Linked DNA regions of Homo sapiens. The protein of the gene in region 1 interacts with the protein of each later gene in a biochemical or structural test. Each region holds a gene or a part of one and is shown in the gene's direction. Other genes may lie near its edges.

Region 1 (7,062 bases):
ACATATTTCTGAAAATACTGGAAACAATCACAGCCAAATAAGAAATCCAGTTCATTTCAACACTGAATAGTTGGGCACTGTAGCGTATTCAAGGATAATTTTTAAAAATTAAAAAGTTAAATCAGGCTGGGCGAGGTGGCTCACACCTGTAATCCTAGCACTTTGAGAGGCGGAGACAGCAGGATCATTTGAGCTCAAGAGCTTGAGATCAGCCTGGGCAACATGGGAAAACACCGTCTCTACAAAAAATACAAAATTAGGCTGGGCCCTGTGGCTCACGCCTGTAATCCCAGCACTTTGGGGGGCCGAGGCAGGTGGATCACGAGGTCAGGAGTTCGAGACCAGCCTGGCCAACATGGTGAAACCCTGTCTCTACTAAAAATACAAAAATTAGGGGAGTGTGGTGGCGGGTGCCTGTAACCCCAGCTACTCAGGAGGCTGAGGCAGAATTGCTTGAACTCGGGAGGCGGAGGTTGCAGTGAGGCGATATCGCACCACTGCACTCCAGCCTGGGCGACAGAGCGAGACTCTGTCTCGGCAAAAAAAAAAAATTCATATTAGCCCCCAGAGAAACCCCACACCCTTTAGCTGTCACCTACCTAACCTCCCATGTGGATTTCACGGAATCATACAATACTGAGTCCTTTGGACCTGGCTGATTTTACTTAGTAAACGTTTTCAAGGTTTATCGATGTTGTAGCATGTGTGACTACTTCATTCCTTTTTACGACTGAATAAAACTCCATTTGGTGGATTTATGACAGTTTGTTTATTCGTGCAATGGTTTTTAATGGATGGACATTTGAGTTGTTTTCACCTTTTGGTTACTGTAAATAATGCTGCTATAAACATCTGGTGTAAGTTTATACATACGTTATTAACTTTTGTTTTAGAGTTGGGGTCTCACTATGTTCCCCAGGCTGGTCTTGAACTCCTAGGCTTAAGTAATCCACCCACCTCTGCCTCCCAAAGTGCTGGGATTACAGGCGTGAGCCCACTGTGCCCGGCGGATTTTTGTGAGGACGTATGTTTTCACCTCTTTCAGGTGTTAACTTAGGCCTCTTTTACGGATGTTCAACAAGCAAACAGCTTTTACACACGTGAGTCAAGGCCTCTCTGTAAGTTCTGAGAGCTGTTCCCCAGGCCCTGAACCCTGACCCCCAAATCTAGCAGGTTAAGCCAAAATTCTCCTCAACTTCAAGGCCTACTTCATTCATTATGCATCCACTCAACTCACATTTCTCTATCCTCTGCTATGGGCCAGACACCCTGCAATGAGCTGGGATGAAGCAGGGGAACACCGCAGGTAAAAATGCTTGCCTGGGTGGGGCTTAAGATCCAGTGAGGGCAGGAAGGAACATATACAAGTAAATATGCTGTATGTTCCTTTCTCCATGAAGCTTTCCTGGATGTTCCAGGAAGGGACGAATTCTACTCTGGTAGTAATATATTTCTTTTCTTGTCTTTTGAGGAGTCTTGCCCATGTTGGAGTGCAATGGCGTGATCTCGGCTCACTACAACCTCTGACTCCCTGGTTCAAGGGATCCTCCTGCCTCAGCGCTCGAGTAGCTGGGATTACAGGCCCGCAATGCCACACCCAGCTAATTTTTGTATTTTTAGTAGAGACGGGGTTTCACCATGTTGGCCAGGCTGGTCTTGAACTTCCAACGTCGTGATCCGCCTGCCTTGGCCTCCCAAAGTGCTGGGATTACAGGCGTGAGCCACTGCGCCTGGCCTATTTCTTTTTTTCTTTTCTTTTCTTTTGAGATGGAATCTTGCCCGGGTTGGAGTGCAATGGCGTGATTTTGGCTCACCGCAACCTCCACCTCCCGGGCTCAAGCGATTCTCCTGCCTCAGCCTCTCAAGTAGCTGGGATTACAGGCGCGTGAACCACCACGCCCAGCTAATTTTTGTATTTTTAGTAGAGACTGGGTTTCACCATTTGGGCCAGGCTGGTCTGGAACTCCCGACCTCAGGTGATCTGCCTGCCTCAGCCTCCCAAAGTGCTAGGATTACAGTGGTGAACCACCGCGCCTAGCCTGTTTCTTTTGTTTCAAAAGTGATTTTTACCTCTCAAAAGTGATTTCTATAATGACACTGATGGAAAATTCCATCAAATAGCCATAACGCATGTCAAGCACTCTGCTCTGCATACCTTCTGTCACACTCTAAGGATGAGAGAGGGGAGAGTTATCCTGGTTCTGGCTGTGTCCTCCCCATTTTGGCCATCTTATGAGCTCCTTATAGAGGTCTGAAATGATTTGGAGTCCAGAGTCCATGGCTGTCAGGATATGACTAGGGTGAGCAGGCAGTTGGGACCACCTTGACCTCCAGCCTCCTGGTCCTCAGTTCCTCGGGTATCCCACTCTGCTGGGGGCTTAGTGACCATGTTTGGGCTCCAGAGATTATTTTTTCCTTCCACTCCTATCCTTAGTTTGTTACTAACCAGGCGGGAGTACAGGCATGTCTCTGAAGACAGGCTCAGGGCTGTGTGACAGCTGACGACCAGGCTGCAGGGAACCAGGTCCCATGCAGTCCTACTGCCTTTTTTTTTTTTTTTTTTTTTTTTTTTGAGGCGGAGTCTCGCTTTTCGCCCAGGCTGGAGTGCAGTGGCACGATCTCAGCTCACGGGTTCACGCCATTCTCCTGCCTCCGCCTCCCGAGTAGCTGGGACTACAGGCGCCCGCCACCACGCCCGGCTAATTTTTTGTATTTTTACTAGAGACGGGGTTTCACCGTGTTAGCCAGGATAATCTTGATCTCCTGACCTCGTGATCCGCCCGCCTCGGCCTCCCAAAGTGCTGGGATTACAGGCGTGAGCCACTGCACCCGGCTACTGCCTTCTTACTGTCGCCACAGCCTGGATAAAATACGATTCTTCTGAGCCTTTTTTTTTTTTTTAATACAGAGTTTCACTCTTGTTGCCTAGGCTGGAGTGCAATAGTGCGATCTCTGGTCACCGCAACCTCCGCCTCCCGGGTTCAAGCGATTCTCCTGCTTCAGTCTCCCGAGTAGCTGGGATTACTGACACGCGCCACCACGCCCGGCTAGTTTTGTATTTTTAGTAGAGACGGGGTTTCTCCATGTTGGTCAGGATGGTCTCGAACTCCCGACCTCAGGTGACTCACCGGCCTCGGCCTCCCAAAATGCTGGGATTACAGGCGTGAGCCACCGAACCCAGCCCCTCTGAGCCTCTTGAATACAACTGGGGTCATGCCTGCTTTGCAGGTTTGTCTTAAGGATTAAAGCTGTTTGGGGAGTGTCTGGAGGAGGGTGAGTCTTGAGCCAACCCCTGCATCTCCCTTCCAGGGCCTCCCGGTAATAAACCCCAAGTAAATGTGCACTTTGTCCGTCCTCTCGGAGCAGGTCTCCGGGTACTCCTGTGCCAAACCGATTTCCGCCCCCAAGGTCCTTCTCCTCTTAGAAATCCTGACGCAGCTCCTAGGTTCCTTCGCAGTGACAGCCACTCTTTTCTATTTGTACGTAGCTGTAGTGTTTTGTGGGTACGTTCTCTGAACAACAAAGTGGCCCTTCTAAAGGCTGTTCTGTGGGGTCCACAGCCTCGCCACCCCCAGCCTCTGCAGCGGCTTCTGAATGAATGAAATAAGCGACGGCGCCCTCTCCACCACCCCACCCCCGCCAACTCGGCAGGCAGGGATCCCAGGCGCGGGTTCTGGCGGAGGCGGTCCCGCGAGGCGGGGGGACTTTTCTAGGCGGGGTGGGGGCCTTGGGACCACCTTTAGGGGCTTTTTCCCCATCCCCTGGCCCCAATTCGCAGCGTTTCGCCACCCAGGGCCCGCAGGGCTCCAAGCCCTTCTTCCCCAGCCCGCGCGCTCAGGCCCCCGCCCGCCCCCGGCGGTGGCCCCGGACCCCGAGCGGAAGGGGGCGGGGGGTGTGCGGGGCCGGGAAGCGGGGAGCGCGGGCGGCGGAAGGTGGCGGGAGGGGGTGGGGGCTGGGAAGCACCGTGCGCGGGCGGCGGGAGGGCCCGGGCGGGGCTGCGCGGTGGTCACGTGGGGCGGGGCCGGGAGGGTACTTAGGGCCGGGGCTGGCCCAGGCTACGGCGGCTGCAGGGCTCCGGCAACCGCTCCGGCAACGCCAACCGCTCCGCTGCGCGCAGGCTGGGCTGCAGGCTCTCGGCTGCAGCGCTGGGTGAGTGCTGGGGACCCGGGGCCACCGCAGCGTAAGTGACCTTGGCGGGGACGGTGCTACCCGGCCGCCGAGACGGGTTCCTCTGCGCCCTCAGTCGGGCCCAGGCGCGGCCCCGCGGCGTCCCTGGGGGCCGGCGGGGAGCCGGGACCCTCGGGACTGTCCCTGACGGGCGGGCTGGGGTGGGAGTCCGCGCGCTCCGAAGCGTCGGCGAGAAAAGCAGAAAACAGCTCCGCCCGCCAGCCCTCTGCCCTCCGCTCCCCTCCCCGGGCTGTGCGCCGGACCCCGGCCCTCGGAGCGGGGACGCGGCCAGGACCGCCGAGGGAGGCGCCTGCGAGGAAGAGCTCGGCCGGGTCCGGAGACTGCTGCCTGGGACCGCGCTCCCAGCGCCTGGGCCTCGGTGTCTCCGGGCCAAACTGCCGACATAATCGCATCTGCCGGCATCTATTTTCGGTTTATTTCCCCCTCATTGCGAAGGATTTGCCTGGCCAACTTTCTGCGCAAGATCCCACGCAATTCCTGGGACCCCAGAAGACAGGTCCTGTTGAAGAACAGGAATCTGGCACTGGGTGGGCTGGGGAGGAAGCCGCACGGTGTTAAATCCATAAACAGGAAGAGAAACCAGACAGCGAAACCAAGAGGCGAATGGGCGATTGGATGCCGGTGGGGAGAAGGCCGGGGGCGCACCCTGCTCCTGGACTCCAGTAAAGGGAGGCCGGGCAGAGTCCCTGGGGCGCCACCTCCCCCTCGGTTAGTAGCCCTGGAGGCCGGGGGGAGTTGGCCTCTGGGGAGCAGTGGGTGCTGGGTGTGGGGCGTTGCAGGCAGGCTGGGGTGGGCGACCCAGGTGGAAGTGAATTGCACTTGGCTTCCTGGTGGGCCTCTGTCACCCCCTTCCCAGGCGCTGAGAAAGCCAGCAGGCTGGCAAAGAAAAGGACCCTAGCGCAGGCCCCACACTCCTCCTCCTAACGGACGAGAGACCCCCCAAACCCACTGGAGAAGTGACGCTGTGGGGTTCAAATGCAGACCTGGCACCTTTTTGTAGCCTGGAAAAACATTCCCACTGCCTGCTGCCGGAGGAGAGGATAGCTGAGATGCACTCTCTTTGAATCCAAACGTTCAGGAACGTAAGGCGAAGAGGCCTAAGAGGGCGTTGGCTGGCTCTGTCTCTCAGGCTGGAGCACAGTGGCGCGATCTCGGCTCACTACAACTTCCGCCTCCCAAATTCAAGCTATTCTCCTGCCTCAGCCTCCCGAGTAGCTGGGATTACAGGTGCCCGCCACCACGCCCAGCTAATTTTTGTATTTTTAGTAGAGATGGGGTTTCACCATGTTGACCAGGCAGATCTTGACCTCCTGACCTCAGGTGATCCGCCTGTCTCGGCCTCCCGGTGAGTCACGGTGCCTGGCCAAGAACTGTTTCTTGTTGGCTCTGGTGCTGGTGACTTAGAACCCGCCAGCTCCTGGAGAAAGGGGCTGGGCCGCCCACCCTGTGTAGCTTTCCCAAAGACAGAGTCAAACGTCTCCTGGAGAACAGAGGCTTCCCTTCGTCTTTGGTCATTTGTCCTCTAGCTGGGGGTACCCCCTGGTGGAAAGGCACAGGTCCCTTGCTCCCCAGGTGGCAACGCAGGCCAGACACGGCCCTGGCACAGCTCTCCTGGGTGTTGGCTCAGGACAGCCCTGTTTCCAACTGGTTAGGCGGTGAGGGGTGGTGGCCCTTTGGTTCCAGGTTGAAACTGCCCATGTGGTGCTGATTTAGCAGACTGGGGAGGCTCTTTTTGTAGGCAGGTTCTTTTCTTTCCCCAGCTGCTGGACCTGGGAGTTGGAAGAGAAGTTGCACCCATTTTAGGGGTAACAGATATTTTCTGTTGCTCTTGGTTGGATTGGGAAGTGAATTGAAGGGAGGTCACGTTTCAGGGGTGCCTTGGGATGTCTGTCAGTGATTTTCTTTTCTTTCTTAATTTCTTTTTCTTTCTTTTTTTTTTTTTTTTGAGACACACTCCCTCTATCGCTCAGGCTGGAGTGCAGTGGTGCGATCTCGGTTCACTGCCACCTCCGCCTCTCATGTTGAAGCAATTCTCCTGTCTCAGCCTCCCTCCCAAGTAGCTGGGATTGCCAGTGCCCATCACCACACCTGGCTTTTTTTTTTTTTTTTGTATTTTTAGTAGAGACGGGCTTTCACCATGTTAGCCAGGCTGGTTTTCGAACTCCTGATCTCAAGTGATCCGCCTCAGCCTCCCAAAGTGGTAGGATTACAGGCATGAGCCACCGCGCGGTGGAGGGGTAATTTTCTTAAATCTGGTAATGAGTTGTGGTTGTGTAGAGTAACATACCGTCCTTTCGAGATATGGACTGAAACATTGAGAGGGAGGAGTTACAGGTATGTCGATTCTTCTTTTCTCTCTCTCCTTTTTTTTTTTGAGGTGGAGTCTGACTCTCTCACCCAGGCTGGAGTGCAGTGGCAAGATCTCAGCTCACTGCAACTCCGCTTCCTGTGTTCAAGCCATTCTCCTGCCTCAGTCTCTCAACTAGCTGCGATTACAGGCATGTGCCTCCACACTCAGCTAATTTTTTTATTTTTAGTAGAGATTTTTTGTCTCTCCTAAAAAAATCCAATGTAAAAAAATCCCAATGTGGGGGTTTTGCCACGTTGGCCAGGCTGGTCTCGAACTCCTGACCTCGTGATCCGCCCACCTCGGCCTCCCAAAGCGCTGGGATTACAGGTATGAGCCACTGCGCCCAGTCTGCTGCCTCTTTTCAATGGTCTGGCCTAAGGAAATTATTGGAAACATGTGCGGTTGAGTGATATTTACTGGGCACTTCCACATGGTCCATGTAAAGGGAGATGGTTGGGGTGACAGGCAGTTGAGTCTAGGGGAGGCATGTACAGATGTGCTGTGCCTCTGGGATATCAGGGTGG
Region 2 (7,717 bases), on another chromosome or scaffold:
AAGATTGCACCACTGCACTCCAGCCTGGGCGACAGAGGGAGACTCTGTCTCAAAAAAAAAAAAAGTGAATTGATGTGAGGCTGGCCTGGCCATGCCACAAGGGAGATGGAGTAATTATTCAAATCAACCTCATTGCAGGCCTGTGGGTTAGGGTTTTTCAAAAGTGGTTTGGGGGAAGGGGTTGGTGTGGCTGGGCAATGGGTGCTTGCTGCTGACCGAGTGGGTCGGAGATGACATCATGGGAAGATGTCCTTTTGCACTGAGTTGCTTCTGGGAGGGGCCACAGGAGCCATGGTCAGTGGGTCCAGGTAGAGCCATGGGTGTCAGACATGCCCAAAACCTGCAAAAGTATCTCAAAAGGCCAGTCTACAATAGCGACATTAACTGCAGGACTAACTGGGGAGGTTGCTGTCCTGTGACCTCCAGAATAATGGCTGGCAATTGTTTGTCTACACCTTAGCTGAACCCAGGCTCCTCTCCTTCTCCTAGCCTAGTCTCTCATGAGCTTTGCAAAGGTGGTTGAGTTTTGGGGAAGGGCCAGTATCATCTAAACTGTAAACTAAATGTCTGCCAAAGTTAGCTCAGCCTAAACCCAGGAATAATCAAGGCAGCTTAAAAGCTAAAGGCCAGAGCCGGGTCAGCTGGTTCAGATCTCTCCCACTGCCACCATTTTCTCATGGATACAATTTTTGCAAAGGTGGTTTCAGAGGTGGGAGGATCACTTGGGCCCAGGATTTCAAGATTAGCCTGGGCAACATAGTGAGACTTCCAGCTCTACAAAAAATGAAAAAAATTAGCCAGGCATGGTGGTGCACACCTGTGGCCCCAGCTACTCAGGAGGCTGAGGTGGGAAGATTGCTTGAGCCTGGGAGGTCAGGCTGCAGTGAGCTGTGATCGTGCCACCGAACTCCAGTGTGGGCAACAGAATCAGACCATGTCTCAAAAAAATAAATAAATAAAATAAAAAATTCCAGGGCTTTTGATTGGAAAAGTAATACAAATTCTAGGTTGGCTTTGATTAGCATACCAATAATAACAATACTGACAACTCACCCTGGAGCTCAGACACTGTCCCAAGCTTTTTGTACTTAATTACTAATTCACTTAGTCCTTTAAAAAAAAATTTGAGATTGGTTATTAGCATTATCCCCACAGAGAGAGGCACAGAGAGTTTCAGCAATTAGTCCTTCACCACACAGCAGGTGCGAAGAAGGGCTGGGTCCACACTCAGGCAGCTGGGCTCCAGCACCTGCCCTCCAAGATGGTTTGAAAACATCTGCTTGCACCCACACCTGCAGCACGAAGGCAGCTTTGACATTGCGAGACAATGAACACACAAACAGAAAACAGCCAGACCAAATATGGGAAGAGAACTCTGAGCCACAGCGACTGTCCAGAGGCCAAACCTCAACTTTCACGGCTAGCCAGAAGCTTTCTGCCCAGGTTCTGTACATTTATTATATATTATATATTATATTTATTATATATTTATTATAACTAAGCATTCAGCAGAAATAGAGTTACAGGCCGGGTGTGGTGGCTCATGCCTGTAATCCCAACACTTTGGGAGGCCGAGGCAGGTGGATCACCTGAGGTCAGGAGTTCAAGACCAGCCTGGCTAACATGGTGAAACCCCGTCTCTATACAAAAATTAGCTGGGCTTGGTGGCACGCACCTGTAATCCCAGCTAATCGGGAGGCTGAGGCAGGAGAATCGCTTGAACCCGGGAGGCAGTGGTTGCAGCAGTGAGCCAAGATCATGGCACTGCACTCCATCCAGTCTGGATGACAGAGCGAGACTCTGAAGAAAGAAAGAGAGAAAGAGACAGAGAGAGAGAAAAAGAGAGAGAGAGAGGGAGGGAGGGAGGGGGGAGGGAGGAAGAGAAGGATAACTCAGCATTTGTCAGGCTACACTTTAACCCACTTCCTTCTAACTGAAAGTCACGTAGCGCTAGTGACTATCTGCACCCCTACTGTTCCTATGGACGGAATCTCTGACTTCAGAATCATGAGGCTTTTGTTTAAGAATTCCTTAAGACGTTTCAGATCCTTAATTCCAGGCCAACCAGTTTGAAGAGCCCCACAGAGGAAGTGAACCAGCATGAGAATACAGCATCTTCAACCCCACCCCATGACTCCACCCTGCTTCACCCTGCACTTCTCCACCGGTCAGCAGCCCCCGCCCTCAGCCCACTCCAAACCCCTGAAAGTTCCCAGCCCCAAACTCCTCAGGGAGATGGATTTGAGGTCTCCTCCCAGTTACAACCTTGCGGTTCAAACTGTCTGCTGCAAACCCTGGGTGGCAGTGTGCTGACTTCCTGCACCCTAGGCAACGGACCTGTCACGGTCACACTCCTAGTGAGCCCCTCTTCCGTCTCCCCAGGCCACAGCCTCCCTCAGGTGCACCTGAGCCTCCCCTTCCCATTCCAGGCTTTTCCCCGGCTCTGCCCCCGCCTGCTGAGGAATCTCGGTCAACACAAGAGAGGACGGCGACTCCCTTGTACAGCAAGTCCTGAATAAATCGTCTTTTGTTCTCATTTGCGTGGGCTTTATTTCCACAGCTGTTATCCTCCTATTTGTAAAACGGAGGCACCTGGGACCAGCTCCAGCAAGGAGAGTGAGGATCCGACTCCAGGAAGCACCTCAGGAACAAAGGCCTCAAGGCCAACACCTTCCACGGCACAAGCCCAACAGAGCTGCAGGAACCGTACAAGCAGCGGGAACATCCCTTTCTCTTCTTGACTATGTTTTCCCCTGATGCTTTGCTTTCCACATAGAAGAGTTTTCCATTTTCGTGGGGTCAACTCTGCCTTCACTCATTCAACAATGATGGGGGGCTCTGCCCCGCTCCCCCCAGGCTTCAACCACACCTGACTGCCCACCCCTTTGGGCCCTTCCCTGAAGTGACAGACCAGGCTGTGCCCTGGCAGGTAAGAGAAAGGACCCCACAACCCATTCATGGGCCGCTCCAGCTGGGGCCTTGCATGCAGGAGCGGACCAGTCCCCCTGAGGGACAGCCCTTGGGTGGGGGCTCTGGGTCATTTTGAGGAGTCAATCACACCAACAGGTGCCTAGCACAGGCCCCACCCCCACCCCAAATAAGGCAAGCGACCCTTCCCTTCCGCAGGTGGTCCAGTCTAACAGAAACCCTAAACCAAAGGGACTGTGTGGTGGCTCAAGCCTGTCATCCCAGCACTTTGGGGGATGGATCGATTTTAGCCTAGGAGTTCAAGACCAGCCTGGGCAATATAGTGAGACTCCATCTCTACAAAAACACTTTTTAAAAAAATTAGGGGTGCAGTGGTTTATGCCAATAATCCCAGCACTTTGGGAGGCCGAGGTGGACAGATCGCTCAGAAGTTCCAGACCAGCCTGGGTAACATGGTGAAACTCTCTGTCTCTATATATGTGTGTGGTAGGGTGGGCCTGTGGTCCCAGCTACTATAGCAGCTGAGGTGGGAAGATCGCTTGAGCCCAGGAGGTCCAGGCTGCAATGAGTTGTGATCAGGCCACTGCACCCCAGCCTGGCCAACAGAGCAAGACTCTGTCAAAAAAAAAAAAAAGAAAGAAAGAAAAGAGGTCAGGTACGGTGGCTCACGCCTGTAATTCCAGCACTTTGGGAGCCCGAGGCAGGTGGATCACGAGGTCAGGAGTTCGAGACCAGCCTGGCCAATATGGTGAAACCCCGTCTCTACTAAAAACACAAAAATTAGCTGCGCATGAAGGCGCGCGCCTGTAGTCCCAGCTACTCGGGAGGCCGAGGCAGGAGAATGGTGTGAACCCCGGAGGCGGAGCTTGCAGTGAGCCGAGATTGCGCCACTGCACTCCAGCCTAGGCGACAGATCCAGACTCCGTCTCAAAAAAAAAAAAAAAAAGGCCGGGCGCAGTGGCTCACACCTGTAATCCCAGCACTTTGGGAGGCCAAGGCGGGTGGATCACAAGGTCAGGAGATCGAGACCATCCTGGCTAACACAGTGAAACCCCGTCTCTACTAAAAATACAAAAATTAGCCAGGTGTGGTGGCGGGCGCCTGTAGTCCCAGCTACTCGGGAGGCTGAGGCAGGAGAATGGCGTGAACCCGGGAGGCGGAGCCTGCAGTAAGCCGAGATCGCGCCACTGCACTCCAGCCTGGGAGACAGAGCGAGACTCCGTCTCAAAAAAAAAAAAAAAAAAAAAAAAAGAAAAGAAAAGGAAAGAAAGAAAAGAAATCCTAAAACGCAAATTCCACCAGAGAACCCTGCCTTCTTCTCATCCCTCTGATCTACCCCCTGCCCCCACCCAGCCTGGAGCGCGTGGGCGCCGTCTCCCCCTCCCTGGGCCCCTCTGTCCACCCCCTTCAGCCTTCAGTGTTCTCGGTCACAAGCGGTGATGTCCACTGCAGCCCGCACACCTGCTCCCGCGGGGCCGGGACCCCTGACCCCTGACCCCTGCAGCGCTGCGCCCCGCCCTCCCTCGTGCGCGGCCCGGACCCCGCCACCCTGCAGGATTGCGCCTACTCCGACTGCCCCTTCCCTATCGTCCCACCCTGCGCGCCCAACCCACCGGCGACACCCGGCCGCGCCCCCGCCCCGGTCCGTGTGACTCGGCGCCCGGAAAGACGATACCAGCCCCGGGAGGGGGGCGCTCCCTCCCGACACCAGCGCTGGGCGCGGAGACCCAGCCTGCGGCGAGTGGTGGCCAGGTTCCCCGCCCCGCGCCCCGCCCCGCGCCCCGCCCCGCGCGTCCCTTCTTGCGGGGCCACCGCGACCCCGCAGGGGACTCCGAAGCCAAAGTGCCTCCTCCCCGCCCCTTGGTTCCGCCCGCGCGTCACGTGACCCCAGCGCCTACTTGGGCTGAGGAGCCGCCGCGTCCCCTCGCCGAGTCCCCTCGCCAGATTCCCTCCGTCGCCGCCAAGATGATGTGCGGGGCGCCCTCCGCCACGCAGCCGGCCACCGCCGAGACCCAGCACATCGCCGACCAGGTGGGTGGGCCGCGGGGACGGGGCCGGCCCGGAGTCCTGCCTTAGCCTCAGGGCGCGGCCGCGGCTCCTGGAGCGAAAGAAGCCGCTTTGGCCCCGCTGCGCACCCCTGGGCTGGCCCGGGCTGTGGCCGTGAGAGGCCTCCCTCCGCTCGGGCGCTGCGCGCGAGTGAGCAGCGGGGGGCCGCGCCTGGGGCGCCGCTGGGGAGACATTGGGCTCCGCTGAATACAGCAAGGGCGAGTGGGAATTGATAGCCCGGAGCAGGGTGCGGTCCCTGCATGGACAGTCTCTGAGAGGAAACCCCAGGGATGAGGCGCTTCTGGTTTCAGGCAGGCAGGGTGATCGGGCGTCGCCGGCGATGGCGCAGGTGAGCAGCCGGCTCCGATCTCCACGGTGATCCGATAGCAAGCGGGTGGGAAGGGTCTGGCTAAACTGACTTAGCCAGGCTTCTTGCTAAAAGTGGATTTTACAAGGAAGTGCGCAGGTGGCCTAGGCGCTTCAGGAGCCCGACTACAGTTTGGCCAAGCAAGAATCTTTGTCAATATCCTCATCTAGTTCGGGAAAAAAATCATGAGAGAGAGTGCAAGAGGTCCCCAGTGATAAGGCACATGGGTTAAAAACTTAAGTGTATCTGCATAAAAGGTCCACAGGTTTCTTTACATGCTTCCGATTCTAGCACTGTTTCAAACTGTAAGTCTAAATAAAAAGTTAAAACACAGAAAAACAAGATAAAAACCGGGCTGGGTTGCAGATGGCAACCTTCCCTGTGTCTCGGTTTCCTCGTCTGTAAAATGGACGTCCTGTTGCTCTGCGCCTGCCAGAAGATTCTGGAGGGGCTGAAATGAGCAGGTCATCTGTGCAAGAAGCCCCCTCCGGTGGAGCACAGGCCAGGCCCGCCTCGCTGTCATGGTTGGTGACCGACGGGATGCCCCAAGCAAGAACAGGTCCAGGCGATGCTGAGGCCTGTGTTTTTTTTTTTTGTTTTTGAGACTCAGTCTCACTCTTGCCCAGGGTGGAGTGCAGTGGCACAATCTCGGCCCACTGCAACCTCCGCTTCCCAGGTTCAAGGGATTCTCCTGCCTTAGCCTCCCGAGTAGCTGGGATTGCAGGTGCTCGCCACCACGCCCAGCTAATTTTTGTATTTTTAGTAGAAACGGGGTTTTGCCATTTGGCTAGGCTGGTCTCAAACTCCTGACCTCAAGTGATCCGCCCACCTCAGCCTCCCAAAGTTCTGGGATTACATCCTTGAGCCACCGTACCCAGCTGGAACTGTTTTTTTCTACTTTATTATTAGGCTGACAGTTTAAATGTCCCTTCAGTTGTAAGAGACAATTGTGTGAAGAGCCAGTGTCAGAATCGTGTGTGTGCTCACATGCGTGCAAGTTACTCTAGCAGGAGGGAATCCAAGAAGCCACTGAGACATCCTCATTCTGTCCCTTCTGTCTAGGTGAGGTCCCAGCTTGAAGAGAAAGAAAACAAGAAGTTCCCTGTGTTTAAGGCCGTGTCATTCAAGAGCCAGGTGGTCGCGGGGACAAACTACTTCATCAAGGTAGAGTGTGGGCCTCAGGAGGGCCTGCCCCGAACGGGTGCTGGTAGGAAACCGCCTGTGCAGGCCCGGGCTGTGTGGTCTTAGGTGCTGGGGCGCCCTGTGGCTGCCCCCTGAGATAAGCATCCTACTGTGTGTGTCCATCGGCCTTTCAGGAGGACTAGGGCTTCTGGGGAGCTAAGAACCCCAAGGAAACAAGTGTGGGATGTGAGGCATCCCCTGCACATGCAGGAGAAGACAAGATTGTCTTCAGCTGGCTGCTAATGACCTGGAGGGGCGCAGCAAGGTGACTTGGGATCAGAGGCTTCGCTCACTCCGCTCTCTTCCCAGGTGCACGTCGGCGACGAGGACTTCGTACACCTGCGAGTGTTCCAATCTCTCCCTCATGAAAACAAGCCCTTGACCTTATCTAACTACCAGACCAACAAAGCCAAGCATGATGAGCTGACCTATTTCTGATCCTGACTTTGGACAAGGCCCTTCAGCCAGAAGACTGACAAAGTCATCCTCCGTCTACCAGAGCGTGCACTTGTGATCCTAAAATAAGCTTCATCTCCGGGCTGTGCCCCTTGGGGTGGAAGGGGCAGGATTCTGCAGCTGCTTTTGCATTTCTCTTCCTAAATTTCATTGTGTTGATTTCTTTCCTTCCCAATAGGTGATCTTAATTACTTTCAGAATATTTTCAAAATAGATATATTTTTAAAATCCTTACAGATTGCCTCCTTTGTTTTAGACTTTTTTCTTCGTCTGAACCACCCCGGGCAGGTCCTTCCCCTCGGGGGCATGGAGGGCGGAGAGACTGCCTGGCTCACACAGCAAGCAGGTGGTGGACCCAGGATTCACACCTGCCCACTCCGGCCCGCGTTCCTAACCACCACTCTTTACATGTTGGTGCTTTGACTCTTAGGTCCTGGCCCCAAGCTTCAGTTTCTCCCATAAAATAAAAGAGTGTGAGTAAATCCAATTCCAGAGCATAACTGGCTCCAGATCTCAGATACATTCACGCACTTTATGCTCTGGTACGGAGAGGCAGCCACACAGTGTCGTGCACGTGCAGAATAGCCTGCAGCCTCACTGAGTGCCCTGTGGTGCGGGAGGCTTCCCATGGAGCCACGTGGGCTTCTAAAGGGAGGTATCTTAGGAGAGCGTGGCTGTTTTTAAAAACACCTTCTAGTTTTCAACAGGGATTACTTCCCATTCATGGAATTGGTCCGG
Region 3 (7,637 bases), on another chromosome or scaffold:
GGCTGCAGAAACACTAAGAGGGGAATGTTACAAGAACGTGGGTCTAGAAAGTAAACTGACCACTCAGAGATGCCAAAGGGATTGCTCAACCCCCTCAGAGCCATCTGTTTTCTTCGTGGCCAGGCCTCTGCAGGGAGTCAGGTGGAGCCCTGGCAGCACCAGCCAGCAGCCTGTGTCCCTGGAGGCCTCTCTCTCTCTCCCTTCCACTCAGATGTGGTTCTTCAGTCACTGGCTCTGCTCTGGTGAATGCACTCCTTGAGAAAATAAATGTTAACCCTGTAATCCAAAATGATGAGCGCCGTTTACACATTTGCTCCTGAGCAGAAATGTCCCAAGGATTCTCATCCCCCCATGAAGTGCAAAATGGGCCGCAGACACCGGGCTCTGCCCTTTCTCGCCTCAGTCTGCAAGGCTGCCAGCAGGCTTCCCAGTGCGGATCAGTTTCCTAATGATGTGGCTTCATCTCTATTGGAGCCAAATGCATTACCAATGTTGGCCTACGGTCTAGAAGCATCTGCATTTCCTCCATCGTTGGGGAGAGAGAGGGGAGAAGGAGGGAGCCTGTGTGTAAGGGACAGGCTTGACCCCAGAGGACTCCGGGCACTCCATAAGGAAGGCTCCTGGGCTTTGCCTTTGAGAGGCTACCAAAACCCGTGGCTGCTCAGTCCAAGCTCCCTCTATAGACACCGAGTGATAATTGCTCAAAACCCAAAGTGCAGAATCTCAACTCTTGGCCAACTTGATTTAACCACTTGCACCTTTAGGTGCTGTTTATGTGTTTGGTCATTTATTTATTATAGCATTGTTTAGTGTTGTTATTATTGCTTATTTATTATAGAGAATTTCTGCCATTTACCTAATTTCTCACTCTACTAATTCAGATGATGAGATCAATAGTCAAAAAGGCAGCCTGGGAGACCACGGCTTTCTCTTTCATCACCTGGCAGAAGGGAAATATGCCCCCTCCTGGGCAGCTGGACTCCTCCAAGTACATGGGTGCTGGAGGCCCCAGGCTCAGTCCTAGGTCCATTGTTTCTCTCTGTGTCTCTGTAGCATGTCTTTGAAGCTGTAGGCTGCTCTGTTACTTTTAATCGTGTTTAAACATCATCACTGATGCCCAGGCACAACAGTTTACAAGGCAGTCTACCTCTCCAGACACATGACCACAGAGAAGGCAAAACATTTGCTCAAGGTCACCAAATATCAGGAGCAGCTGCCCAGCTACTGTAACCTTTCACTTCCTATTACAGCATACTGAACACGGCTCCTGCAGCTCCTGAGAGCACCCTACACTGGTGTCTGTCCTACAAGGGTTAGAGAGGTCGCTGCATCAGGCCAGCTGACCCTCCCTGCAGCATGTGCCTGCAGGGCACGTCCTGACAGAGGATGACCACCGGCGGTGGAATCACATACAGGGAAATAGGCCAGCACTTCAGCTCCCACCTCACACCCCACCTACCACCATGCTCCTGCTATTTGGGTGACCTGCACGTCCTTCCTAATGACAAAAGACAGGGGATTTGTGTGTATTTCAGCTTACCCTCTGCACAACACATCCTCTTGAGACTAGAGCCCCAGTGGCCAGGGAAGGTGGGAGCCACAGAGAAGAACCAACTCCCACACTTGGGAGATGACCATTCTGCTCACAAGCACCTGGCCAGGGGCTGCCCTCTCTTTCCCTTCTCTGAAAATCTCTCCCCATTTCCTGTCTAACTAGGAGGCATATGCGCAACCCTGTTTGAAGACCTTCCTTCCCTCACCCAGCAGTAAACACCATCTGGGCCACCTGCTGTATCTGCTGGGGTGCATGGCTTTTCTAGGGACGCTGGATTGACAGTGGGGTGAGATGGTCACTGGGCCTCGGGTAACAAGGTCCCCTGTCCCACCACTGAACATGAGCATCCATGAGTAATATTGTTCCCGCTGCCGGGTTCCTGCTGATCCAGCCCCAGCCATGGCGGAGCCCCAGGATCACAGCAGGTCTGGGCTGACCCTGGCTGACCCTCACCTCCACCACTCCCAGGAGAGTCCTCTGGGTGCCCTGCAAAGGCCCAGAGTTTTCTGGTGTTTCTGGCAAAGCTGCCACCTCGCCATAAGGGCATTTGCCACAGGGTCACCTTCAGGCATGGAGGGTGGGGTTGAGAGAACAAAGGGAGCAGCTGTCTGTTCAGAGCCTCCTTTCCACCCTCGCCACTCCTGGAGTCACATTCCAGCCCAGGTCCGCAGCATCCCAAGCTGGGGACTTTGTCACCCCACAGGGCACCCAGCTGATCAGGTCCTCTCAGTCTGGGGAGAAGAACTCACAATCCTGGCAATGAAGGAACTCAGGGCCCACTGGAAAGCCACACTGAGCAAAGGACAAAGACACACCCAGGCTTGCTCTGCAGGACTCCATTTCTGGGAAGCTCAAGGACAGGCGACAAACGAGTCTATAGGGCAGGATGGGGGCTGCCAGGGCAGGATGGGCATGAGGGTGAGCTGCAGAGGCAGGAGGACACACCGTCTGGGGCAAGGCAGATGTCACAGGTCTGGACAAAGTGGTAACACGGGTATATGCGTTAATGAAATCCCCCAGATTAGACATTTTGTTGTCTATAAATTCTACCTCACTCACAGTGATGTTCTAAACTCAGGTGAGTTTTCCAAGCAGTGCAGAGGACCAGCGCCAGCAGCATGACGCCCAGAGGGGAGGAGCAAGAGACACCCGTGGGCTCCCACATTCATCCTGTGGCTGCTGCTCCCTCTCCTGACACCCCCACTGCCTGCCAATGGGTCTCACTGCACCTTCCACCCGGCCCCACCCACAGTTACCATGAGACTCCAGATCGTTCCCTTCCCTGCTCACACTCCCTCCAGGAGCTTCCTCTTCCTGGAGCAGGCATGCCCAGCCCCGCCTCAGGGCCTTTGCACTGGCCCTTCCCGCTGCCTGGGGCTGTTTCCTGTCTAGGCAGGGCTTCTCACCTTTCCAGTCTCATAGAGTCCTCCCTGACCAGGTCCAGTGGCATCATCTCTCTCTATCCCATACTCTCACTTCCAACAGAGAGACTAATTTCCTGATATTAATTATTGATCACTATTCGCCATCCTCCCACACACCCTAATGCTGGGCTGTGCAGTGCCACAGCCACCAGCCACATGTGGCCACAGGGTGCTTGAAATGGGGCCAGTACAATTGACACCCACATACACAGGGAATTTCAAAGACTCAGTACACACACCCAAAATAAAATAACCTATGTTATTAATGATTCTTCTTATGTGTTGAAATAATATTTTGGATATATTAGGTTAAGTAAGAAATATTATAAACATTACCTTCACCTGTTTCTTTTTTACTTTTTGAAATGTGTCTCCCAGAAAGTTTTAAATTGCTCCTGGGTTCGTGTCACATTTCTGTCTGGCAGCAGCCCTGCAATGTAGTGTCCATGGCTCGGTCACCCAGGCTCCGTCTCTAGCTCCTAGACTACCTGGTGCAGGGGGAAGCTGGTGAAAAGTCTGTTTACTGAATAATGAGTTGTGAAAGGAGAACCCAGAGTTTTTTACTCAAATAAAGGTTAATTCTTCTGTTTGAAAAGTTCCCTAGCACAGGGCATGGCCTGAGTCTCCTGTGGCCTCTGGAATCACACCTCTGCCTTAGTGATTTCTAGACCTTGACCAAATGCTCACGGATACTCAGGACCTCTGAAGACTCCGGAAGGCCGAGACCTCTATCTTTCCCTTTTCTGAGGAAATGAAGCTAGGGGGTCGTATGCTTTTAGGGCCCAGGGGGCCTTGACACCTCTCTGGAGGGCAGGGTGACCTAAGCTTGGGAGGAGGGACAGGTCTTTGGGAAGAGATGGAGCTGAGGGGGTGGAGTGGGTAGAAGGGGGGCATAGGTGTGGAAGGGGTGGGGGAAGAGGGGCCAGGAGTGGGGTGAGAAGAGGGGAAAGAAGAGGATAGGAGGGACAGGGACAGGGAGAGGCCAGGAATGGGTAGGAAGGGAAGACAGAGGAGGGGCGGGACGAGGGAGGGGCGATGAAGAGGGGCCGAGCTGGGGTGGGGGCGAAGTGGGAGCAAGGACAGGAGTGGAGGAGGGAGATGAGGGGCATGGGAGGCGGTGTCTGGGGGTTGAAAGGGGAAAGGGACAGAGGAGAAGGAGCCTGAAGAGTGGCGGCATGGAGGGGCCCGAAGTGGGGAGGTGGGAATGGTCGGATGGATGGGGAGGAATGGGGAGGATAGGAGAGGCAGGGGAGGCTGGAAGACAGTAGGAGAGGAGGGGGAGGGGAGGGGAGGGGATGGATGGGAATGGATAGGGAAGGCCAGGGAGACTGGGGGGCCAGGGGAGGAGGGGAGGGAGAGGGGAGGCGGGAAGGGAGAGGAGAGGCCGGGAGGGGCTGGGAGGGGAGGGAAGGGGATGGATGGGGAAGGACAGGGAAGCCTGGAGGGGCAGGGGAGGCTGGGATGGGAGGAGACTGATAGGGAGGGACCTGGAGGCGGGGAGAGGCAGGGGAGGCGGGGAGAGGCAGGGGAGGCGGGGAGGGAGAAGGGAGGTGGGAGGGACGAGGCGTTCCGGAAAAGGGAGTGCAGGCCGCGGTGGGGTGGGGCGGCGAAGGCCGGAAGGGATAAAACCGCAGTCGCCGGCCTCGCGGGGCTCACGGCCTCGCCTCGGTATCGCAGCGGGTCCTCTCTATCTAGCTCCAGCCTCTCGCCTGCGCCCCACTCCCCGCGTCCCGCGTCCTAGCCGACCATGGCCGGGCCCCTGCGCGCCCCGCTGCTCCTGCTGGCCATCCTGGCCGTGGCCCTGGCCGTGAGCCCCGCGGCCGGCTCCAGTCCCGGCAAGCCGCCGCGCCTAGTGGGAGGCCCCATGGACGCCAGCGTGGAGGAGGAGGGTGTGCGGCGTGCACTGGACTTTGCCGTCGGCGAGTACAACAAAGCCAGCAACGACATGTACCACAGCCGCGCGCTGCAGGTGGTGCGCGCCCGCAAGCAGGTGCGTGCCGCCCCCCGCAGGGTCCGAAGCCCCGGCCCCGCCGTCCCAGCCTCCCCCCGCGCTGCTCCCGGACCCCGTGCTGCTCCTCTCCGGCGCCTGGGCTTCTCACCCGGACCCTGTTCCCGGTCTTCGCTGTCACCCCCGAGCCCTTGGCGGGCGTGTCCGGGAATGCCCTGAGTCTGGCCTGGCCTGGAACCGCACGGACACGTCAGGTCCGCGCCCGGCGCCTAAGATCAGCTTCCAGGAGCCAGCTCGAGCTGCGCCGCAGCGCGGGGGCAGGCACAGGACGTCCCACACAGCTCTGTCCCGACCTCCTGGGACGCTGGGCTCCGGGTGCGCTGCTGAATACGCAGGAGAAGGAAAAACAGAGCCCCTCATCTGGCTGCCTCCTTGTTCTTCCACCAAATAATTTTTAAGCACTTTTGTTTCTTTTAACTTTTTATTCTCCCGTAATTTCAGACTTACAGAGCAGCTGCAAAATAGCACAGGGCATCCCTGTAGATCTTTCACCCAGATCCCTCAGATGTTAGCACAGATGTTAACATTTTGCCCTGTTTGTTCCCCCCAGCTCACTTTCCGAATGTGAATATGGGTGTGTGTATATGTACTGTATATGCATTTTTTGCCTGAATCTTTTGAAAGTAAACACTTCAGTGTGTTTTTCCTAAAAACAAGGGCAATATCGCACATAATCACTATTCCATTTTGAAAATCAGCACTGACACATTCATGATCTAATGCTCAGACTCATTCAGCTTTCCCTGTCTGTTGACGGCCTTCGTGCCCTAGGACGCTCCTGGGCCATGAGTGCATGAGTTCAGCCCTGTCCTGTCCCCTCGGCCTCTTTTAACCTGCAGCAGCAGCTGGGTCTGTGCCACGACCGTGCCATTTCCCAGGGTCTAGCAGGTGTGGATGGAGACTATGCTGACTCTGGGTGGGCTTGATGCTGCTCAAGATGAGATCTAGGCCATGCGGCTCATCCTCCTCCCAGAATACTCTCCGCAGGGGCCACACGTGAGCCTGGCACCTTGTCCTGCAGAGCCCTGCTTCCCTCCCCAAGTCACACCCCTGGGCACAGTCCCCTAGGACTAGCGGCCTTCACCCTCAGGCCGGCTGACCACCCCCTACATCCCAGGGCAGCTGAGTCCCTGCTGGGGTGGAGCATGCCTGACCCTGCCTCTATCAGCTGATGCAGAGTTAGACCTCAGCCAGATGAAGACACCCAGCAGACCGGAGTAGGGGGTCGGATCGGGAGGGAGCTTCAGTAGGGCTACCAGGCCCAGCTTGACCTGCATCCCATGGCAGAGCAGCGAACAGTGACACAGACTTTAGAGCTCCTCCACCTTCTCTTGGAAATTCAGAGGAGTCCAGACCAGCCGCGTTTCTCCCGCAGCCGTCAGCTGGGGCCCTCTCCCTGCACAGGAGGGCCATTCCCTGGTGTAGGGTCCCCGCTGGCCTGCACCTCTCTCTCACTGGGAGTGAAGCATGGGGCATTGTAGATCGTTGGGCCCTGGAGCCTATTTTACAGAGGAGCAGACTGACACCAGAGGGATCACAGGCCTTGCTTGTGCTTCTACAGGACTTGTGTGTGGTTCCACAGGGCAAGGTCTAGCACCCTGGTCCCAGGGTCCCTCATCCCATGCTTCTCCACAGTTCTGACAAGTCATGTTTTGGGGCGGCACTGTGCAGGGAAAGCATTCAGTTCTCTTCTGAAGTTGCAACCCTAAGACATGCAGGTGTGTGACTCACTTTAGAAATATTGCCTTGAAAATCACACCTGGAATGGAAGCACGTGGGAAGCAATGTTTATTGGCCTAAAACATCAATGTATGTGAGCATCTCATCTCCTAGTGAGAAATGAGGAAAAATACCTCTGGGTTAAATGGCAGGAATGAGATGCTCTGTGGACTGAATGCCAGGAACTGGAAGTTTGCCGAAATTTCATCATCACATGAGAACCTTCCTAGAATAGATCCAGTGTCCCTGCCCCCTGGGTCATAGGTAGCGGAATTCAGTTAATCCTTGGCATTGGCATAGAGAAACAAGTTACCGGGGAGGCCTGGGGCATGGCATCCCTGCCAGCTGGCAGGAGGAGGTGGCTTGTGTGCCTTGCAGGTGACAATGTGGGCAGCTCATGAAGGTAGGCTTGAAGCCCCAGGCAAGCCCAGTGACCCGGTCACAGTGAAGTGCCTGTGTGTGTAAGAAACTGACAGAACGTGCTGTCCCTGCCTCCTGCTCTTTCACATGTGTAGATCGTAGCTGGGGTGAACTACTTCTTGGACGTGGAGCTGGGCCGAACCACGTGTACCAAGACCCAGCCCAACTTGGACAACTGCCCCTTCCATGACCAGCCACATCTGAAAAGGGTATGTGCCTTATATGGGTCCAGGGCCAGTCATACACTGCAGAGGGGTGTGTGTGTGTGTGTGTGTGTGTGATGCACATGTTCTGCAGGGTACGTGTGCATGTGCCTGAGTGTGTGTACACGTGGAGATGCATATGTGTTTCCAAGTATAGGTTTGTGTGGGGAAGTGCACGTGAGTGTGTGCAAGTGGGTGTGTGGATGTGTTGGGGAAGTGTGGGGGTTTATGCATGGATAGGTGTGGGTGTGTGAGTATATGTGTGTGCACATATGTGTGGGGGTGTCTGTGCACATACATTCACATAC

The links.
Region 2: the proteins of CTSB (region 1) and CSTB form a complex in vitro, tested with the Homo sapiens proteins (2 studies listed by BioGRID).
Region 3: the proteins of CTSB (region 1) and CST3 form a complex in vitro, tested with the Homo sapiens proteins (one study listed by BioGRID).

The regions. Positions count from the first base shown.
Region 1 is NC_000008.11:11,865,088-11,872,149, reverse strand, and holds the start of CTSB (cathepsin B isoform 1 preproprotein), read left to right. Parts: upstream 1-4,062; 5' UTR 4,063-4,149; exon of another isoform or gene 4,150-4,896; intron 4,897-7,062. UniProt on the Homo sapiens protein: Thiol protease which is believed to participate in intracellular degradation and turnover of proteins. Cleaves matrix extracellular phosphoglycoprotein MEPE. Involved in the solubilization of cross-linked TG/thyroglobulin in the thyroid follicle lumen.
Region 2 is NC_000021.9:43,773,446-43,781,162, reverse strand, and holds CSTB (cystatin-B), read left to right. Parts: upstream 1-4,854; 5' UTR 4,855-4,893; coding exon 4,894-4,959; intron 4,960-6,403; coding exon 6,404-6,505; intron 6,506-6,832; coding exon 6,833-6,961; 3' UTR 6,962-7,213; downstream 7,214-7,717. UniProt on the Homo sapiens protein: This is an intracellular thiol proteinase inhibitor. Tightly binding reversible inhibitor of cathepsins L, H and B.
Region 3 is NC_000020.11:23,634,952-23,642,588, reverse strand, and holds the start of CST3 (cystatin-C precursor), read left to right. Parts: upstream 1-4,633; 5' UTR 4,634-4,726; coding exon 4,727-4,969; intron 4,970-7,221; coding exon 7,222-7,335; intron 7,336-7,637. UniProt on the Homo sapiens protein: As an inhibitor of cysteine proteinases, this protein is thought to serve an important physiological role as a local regulator of this enzyme activity.